Homo sapiens: one gene and its partner. Changing the gene in region 2 together with the main gene of any one other region gives a genetic interaction. Each region holds a gene or a part of one and is shown on either strand. Other genes may lie near its edges.

Region 1 (3,821 bases), on a different chromosome or scaffold from region 2:
TTTGGCAGGCTGAGGTGGGAGGATCACTTGAGCCCAGGAGTTCAAGGCTACAGTGAGCCATGATCACACCACTGCTCTCCAGCCTGGGCAACACAGTGAGACCCTGTCTCTAAAACCAGTAAAATAAAATAAAAACCACTGTTATGTAGAATACTCAGTGTTGGTCCATGAGTAAAATTTCAAATTCAATTTAGAGGACCTTAATTTTTTTTTTTGAAGATTTTACATTGATAAGTCACATTTACGGACTCACCTCTCAAAAAAATGTTAGGTTTTTATATTTTACGGTTTTCAGTATAGCCGTAATCATTCAAGTTTAACCACTTTACTTCATTTGAATTAAAAAGTCAATGTAGTATTTTAATATTAAGACATTTAGTATTTTCAGAAAGTATTCCTTATAAAAGACTTGCTCAACTGACAACTTATAGTTAGAATAAATGACTCTTTAACCACTTTTTCCCCCATAGACAAAATGAAGTAAAATCTCAGGGAACTAACAGAGGACTTTATTTCTGAGGAAAGAGGAGCAGCTATGGCTTGAGACTGCTAACCCTACTCCAAACACACAAAAGCAGCTACCTCTCTCCTGGCCCAAATGCACACACAGGATGACTTAGCATTTCTAGAAGGAAGCTTTGTAAGATGACTGGTGCAACAGGCTATGAGGCAAACCCTTCCTGTTAGAGGGGGAGAGGGCAGCTGGAAGACTTCCCTGTTAGTTCACAAATAATGATGGCTCCCAGCAGGGGGTGGGCCCAGCCACCCTGGGGGAAGAGGTATATGGATCCACAGGAGGAGAGTAGGATTCTGAGATCCTAATACTTACACATATACTTGAGTCCGTGATGAATAAATTGCTCCTAGCTATTGGCCCCTCCCTCCTCACCTATGTTATGGCTCAGATCGGCTAAAAGCAGCCAACTTCCTTCTATACAGCACGGAACTGTAGAAACCACCGACTTTCCTCCTTACTCTGCCTTACACCACACAGTTCAATAGGGCGAGGCACAATGAACAGGGAGGTCAAAAGGGGAGAAGAGTCAAGGGAGAGAAAGGCAACCTGTATCCAGAGGAGCAAACAGGAAAAATTCTGTTTTATTATTTTTGAGATGCTTCTTTTTTTTTTTTTAGGCGGAGTCTTGCTCGGTCGCCCAGCCTGGAGTGCAGTGGTGCGATCTCAGCCCACTGCAAATTCCGCCTCCCAGGTTCAAGTGATTCTCCTGCCTCAGCCTCCTGAGTAGCTGGGATTACAGGCACGGGTCACTATGCCTGGCTAACTTTCGTATTTTTAGTAGAGATGGGGTTTCGCCATGTTGGTCAGGCTGGACTCAAACTCCTGACCTCGTGATCCGCCCACCTCGGTCACCCAAAGTGCTGGGATTACAGGCGTGAGCCACCGCGCCTGGCCCAATTCTGTTTTAATATAGTGAGAACAATCTGCCAGAAGCAAAGATCAGCCTCTCATTAACCACGAGAGGCATCCTTCGTTCTCCTTTTTCATTCCTGCCAGAAGTCTATGTATTTTACTCTTAGAACCACCTTTGCTGGGCATGGTGGCTCACGCCTGCAATCCCAGCACTTTTGGAAGCCGAGGCGGGCAGATCCCCTGAGGTTAGGAGTTCGAGACCAGCCTGACCAATATGGTAAAACCCCGTCTCCACTAATAACACACAAAAATTAGCCAGGCATGGTAGCGCATGCCTGTAATCCCAGCTACTCGGGAGGCTGAGGCAGGAGAATCACTTGAACCCGGGAGGTGGAGGTTGCAGTGACCCGAGATCATGCCACTGAACTCCAGCCTGGGTGACAGAGCACAACACCGTCTCAAAAAACAAACAAACACACTGAAAACCACCCCCCCGGCCAAGATTTTGATATTGTTAATCCCCTCTCGTTTTATGTTTATTTCTTTATATTATTTCCTTATCTTTCTGAGTTTGATGCTTAGCTCACTAATGTAAGATATAAAACAAGTGGGCAGGATACACACCAACTTCAGGATAGTGGCTTTCTTCTAAAAGAGGAAGGAGAAGGAACTTAGCAAAACAACGAGGACTCAAATGGATAGGTAATTTTTATCTTTTTAATATCTAGGGGAAAAAAGTAAATTTTTAATAATTTCTGAGTACACAAGCATATGTTATTCGCAAACTTTTTTTGGAGGGGATGGAGTCTCATTCTGTTGCCCAGGCTGGAGTGCAGTGGCATGATCTTGGCTCACTGCAACCTCTGCCTCCTGGGTTCAAGCGATTCTCATGGCTCAACCTCCTGAGTAGCTGGGATTACAGGCACCTGCTAATTTTTTTTTTTTTTTGAGACGAAGTCTCGCTCTGTCACCCAGGCTGGAGTGCAGTGGTGCCATCTCAGCTCACTGCAAACTCTGCCTCCCAGGTTCAAGCAATTCTCCTGCCTCAGCCTCCTGAGTGGCTGGGACTACAGGCACGTGCCACCACACCTGGCTAATTTTTTGTATTTTTAGTAGAAACAGGGTTTCATCATGTTAGCCAGGATGGTCTCAATCTCCTGACCTCATGATCCACCCGCCTCGGCCTCCCAAAGTGCTGGCATTACAGGCGTGAACCACTGTGCCCGGCCCTGTTATTCATGAACTTTTCTATGAAAAATTTTACTCAAGTTACCTGCCTCATAAATAAAATCTTAGATCACTGACTACAATTACATCACTAATGCTAAAATATTCCAAAGATAAAACTGGATAGGAAGGACAGTCACTTCTGAATTTACCTCACAGTTTGTACGAATGAGATAAGAACTACAAGGAAGAGAATCAAAAGCAGCGTCAGCCTCTCTCACACTGTCAGTTTCTTCAACGCAAGAAAGAGCAAAAGGCACTCTGAAAGCTAAAGAGGGCTGAAGAGATTCTCTAAAGACCAGTCTGTATCTGTCCTCCAGACATCAAGATCAGAATAGTGGACGAAAGGGCCCATGTGAAAAGCATAACATTACCAATGAGGGTGACGGGTACGCCGTATTCCAGGGCGGAGATGGCGGTCCACTTCCCTGTGCCCTTCTGCCCCGCGCTGTCCCTGATCTTTGGCAGCAGGTGTTTGCCATCGGTGTCTTGGAACTTGAGAATATTGGCTGTGATTTCAATCAGGAATGAGTCTAGCTCTGTCTTATTCCAATCCTCAAAGGCCTACATGCAGAACACAGGAGAGAACCATGTTAGAGGAATGAGGGCTGAGCAAGGAAGCCCCTTGTCCAATGTCCACGCTGACCAATGCTCACGGTTGCCAGCAGGCTCTGCTCGCGTCTGCCTGGGGACTTCTGCTCCTGCTGGTTGAGTTTTATGCTAACCCAGAGTCAGTTGTGTTTGTTCTGAACCTGGTTATACTGAATTTCTGGCCACCAGAAGTGTTGTCTCCTCAGAGGCAAGGGCTCCTCACTTCACTTAGGTCTCTGTGCAGTGTCGCCTCCTCAGAAGCCTTCTGCAATCACCGGATCTTGTCCCAGTTTACTCTTCGTTCTCACAGTCATCGCTAACTAGTTTGATATTGTATATTTATTTCTGTCTGTCTTCCCAGCTCCGGGAGGGCAGGCACTTTGCTTTCTTCACTAGTATATCCCCAGCATTTAGAATCATGCTTGGCATATAGTAAAGCACTCGTGTGTTTGCTGAGTGAACACGTTAAGTATTATATATACCAATAAAAAATGAACACAAAAAGAATAGCACTGTTTCTGTGAAAGAAAACTAAGGTAATGTTTTAGAAAGAACAATTAACAGCAATCCAGTGAAACAAACAATAGTCAAAGTAAGTGAGGATGACATGAATAAAAAACTAGGAGGAAAACAA
Region 2 (3,821 bases):
GAATGCAACACTGCTTGGCTAAATTAGAAATTTTTGTTACATGACTTTTCAGAACCATTTTATTACAAAGCTAGACATAGTTCTGACAATAAAACTATCATGAAATCCAAATAAGACAGCCGAAATTTTAAAATGTAAAAAAGCAACCATTAGTAATTCAATATCAAAATCACCCATGAATCTCTGAAATTTGATTTCAGATCTCTAACTTTTCTAAAGCAACTGTTTTTTTTCTCTTCCCCAGTATTTGTGCTCATCTTTTGTGCAAGTCACTTTGCAAACTGACTCATTATTTCTCAACCTAATCATTTACGGAAGGTTTCAATTATTAAAAAATCACTAAAAAGTTAAAATTAAGGAAGTTGTGTTATCATCAATTATGTCAAATTGTGAGTAGGATACACATCCTAAAGAGTATAGATCTGACTTTACTTGTACAAACTCTGCCAAATTAAATATAAGCTGTATATATTAATAGAAATTGGGAAACCATGAATTTAAAATTCTAAGAAAAAAATCTTTCCTCATTTTATTATTGTTAATATCAACATTATTTATAGATGCTTATGGAGAGCCCACTATTTGCCAGACACTTTACACAAATTCTCCCTGATCCATCCAAAAATCCTTAGGAAAAAACTGAACCTCAGAGGTTAAATAGTCGAGGCTATTACACAGGTACTAAGTAATGGCCCTGGAATTCAAATCCATGTCTGTCTGGCTCCAAAGGTTAAAAATTCATTCCAATGCTAACAATACGTAATACTAAAATAGGACACCAAATCTCTACAACTCTCCTTGCTTATTTTTTAATTATTATTATTATTTTTTTTTTGAGACAGAGTCTCACTCTGTCGCCCAGACTGGAGTGCAGTGGTGCGATCTTGGCTCACTGCAACCTCCGACTCCCGGGTTCAAGCGATTCTTGTGCCTCAGTCTCCCGAGTAGCTGGGACTACAGGCACCCACCACCATGCCTGGCTAATTTTTTGTATTTTTAGTAGAGACGGGGTTTCATCATGTTGCCCAGGGTGGTATCGAACTCCTGAGCTCGGGCAATCCGCCTGCCTTTGCCTCCCAAAGTGCTCCCAGCCTCCTTGCTTCTTTAAACTGCTGAAGGATAAATGAATGGTCCAGTGAATATGTGTCTCTTATCACCTTCCCAGCACTGAAATAATTATTCTTTGAGGCAGTATTAAGCCTTTATGCCTGAAGCTTAGGCTTTGCGATGTCTATGCTTACTGAAATCTACTTTGACACTTCTATAGTTAAACTGTTTTGAATAGTATACAACAGTAATATCCTTCTACTGGAGTCTAGGTGATCACTTCTCCAGAGGGATTTCAGTACTACAAGCTACATAAAATTAGCAGCTACTTTCCCCTCAGTGCTACTTAGAGGTAACCTCTAGGGGAAGGTTAAAAAGCCAAGGGAAGGCAGGGCACAGTGGCTCATGCCTATAATCCAACACTTTGGGAGGCCAAGGTGAATGGATTGCCTGAGCCCAGGAGTTCAAGACCAACCTGGACAACACAGTGAAATCCCATCTCTACAAAAAAAATGCAAAAATTAGCTGGGCATGGTGCCATGCGCCTGTAGTCCCAGCTATTCAGGAGGCTGAGGTGGGAGGGTCACTTGAACGCAGGAGGCCAAGGCTGCAGTGAGCCATGATCATACCACTGCACTCCAGCCTGGACAACAAAGCAAGACCCTGACTCGAAGAAAAAAAAAAAAAAGCCAAAGGAAGCATATATTTGGGTATTAAATGCTCAGAAGCTAGCCTATAAAAAAAATCAAGCAATGGATTAAAAAGAGGCTCTCTATTTGATTAAATAACGGTGATAACATCAATTTCAAGTATGAATTCCATGTTGGTGAGGGAAAATGAATTTCAATTCAATAAAAATTCTTTTCTAGCAGCTCCGCAAAATTTCACGGCTCATCTGTATTCAAAATCTTCTTCACTGATGGTACTTGTTTAGAAAGCACCAAGAAACAACGGTAATATAGAATTCTTCAAGTATACTTGTTTGGACAGTTGTATGTGGCTACTTATCCTGGCATCAAAGTAATCAGCACTAAAGATCAAAGGCTTCTGTGTGAATCCAGAATGCAACCCTGTTTGGATTCTAAGTCACGGAACCACAGAAAGAATCCCATAAATCAACTTCCACTGAATTTATGCCTATCATTTCCTTCTGGGCAAATTCATTCTAATAGATACTGGCAAAATAAGAAAGTCAAAACGGGTTGTATTTATTGTTAGTTATTAAATCTTTAAGCAGCAACAGCCATAAAGCTGTAGCTAATTCAGCCATGTTGCTGGTTCAAAAGAAAACTTAATTATCTTAAGCCAACAGCATTTCTAAAATCAATTGTGTAGGAAAGAGATTAACTGCTATTCTGATGTTGCTCTTAAAGCCAGAACTAGAAAATCCAGATAAATTATAATAATGGAAATAATTGTAAAGAAGAGAAGAGCTTACCAGCTACTTTTTGTCTTTTACTCATCTCACAACCAAGTTTTTTTCTTTCACTTTCCATTCATCCTCTTGTGTGAAAACTCTTTTATCATAATATGAAGGAAAAGCTGTGAGCAGTTTAGAGAACAGCTGCATGTATTCACAGAATCACAGTAACTTGGGCTGAAAGGAGGTTCCAAAGGCCATGGAATTTAACTACCTATTCAAGGAGTATATTTTTTTTGCCTATCTTCACTAAGTGGCCGATGGATGGAATGTTTTCTACCTACTGAAGTAGCTCATTGCATCTTATGATGGCTCTCTCACAAAGTTCCCCTTGGGAGGGCTGGACATGGTGGCTCACAACTGTAATCCCAGCACTTCGGGAGGCCGAGGCGGGTGGATCACCTGAGGTTAGGAGTTCGAGACCAGCCTGGCCAACATGGCAAAACCTTGTCTCTACTAAATATACAAAAATTAGCCAGGCGGTAGTGGTGCATGCCTGTAATCCTGGCTACTCGGGAAGAATAACTTGAGCCTGGGAGGCGGAGGTTGCAGTGAGCCAAGATCGCTCCACTGCACTCCAGCCTGGGCAACAGAGTGAGACTTTAAAAAAAAAAAAAAAAAAGTTCTCAGTAAACCAAAGTCTGTCTCTGTCTTACTATTGTCGCTACCTTGTTGTATCTCTAAGAGTCATTAAAAACAAATGTAAGCCCTCTTCCATATGAAAACTTTTATTTTTTCTATTTTTCTTTACTTCTTTTTCCTTTTTTCACTGTTTCTGTAGACACTGACATATGAAGTCCTTTCTAAAGAACATGACCCCCTTCTCCAGCTAACTTTATTCCTTTGAATGTTCCTAGTATGAAATGCTATTGAGTCCCCTGTGTTGGGTAAGGCACAAAAAATTTAATTTAAATGCATACCTATAATTATTTTAATTTTAAAAATTACTGTTTCAAACTTTGAGTTACCTAAACATATTGGCTACCAACTTCAAATCAGATGAGGTGTTGCTCAAGCATGGCAAAATCTTCCTTATAAATGTACATACTTACATGAAAACTCTCTAAATTCAGACTCGAGTATTTTTAATATTATTTAAATACAGGTTTAGCATTACTAATCTGAAAATCTAAAATCTGAAATGCTTGAAAATCCAAAACTTTTTGAACACTGATATGACACACAAATGGAAAATTTACACTTGATCTCATGTGATGGAGCACGGTCAAAATTTTCATGCACACAATTACTGAAAGTATTGTGTAAAATTACCTTTAGGCTATGTGTATAAAGTGTATATGAAACATAAATGAATCTCCTGTTTAGACTTGGGTCCCCTCCCCAAGATATCTCA

What was found.
Region 1: changes in MRPS35 (region 2) and PGD together harm fitness more than expected from each alone (negative genetic interaction), as found in Homo sapiens cells (one large-scale study listed by BioGRID).

What each region holds. Positions count from the first base shown.
Region 1 is NC_000001.11:10,412,401-10,416,221, reverse strand, and holds part of PGD (6-phosphogluconate dehydrogenase, decarboxylating), read right to left. Parts: intron 3,161-3,821; coding exon 2,971-3,160; intron 1-2,970. UniProt on the Homo sapiens protein: Catalyzes the oxidative decarboxylation of 6-phosphogluconate to ribulose 5-phosphate and CO(2), with concomitant reduction of NADP to NADPH.
Region 2 is NC_000012.12:27,738,182-27,742,002, reverse strand, and holds part of MRPS35 (small ribosomal subunit protein mS35 isoform 1 precursor), read right to left. Parts: intron 1-3,821.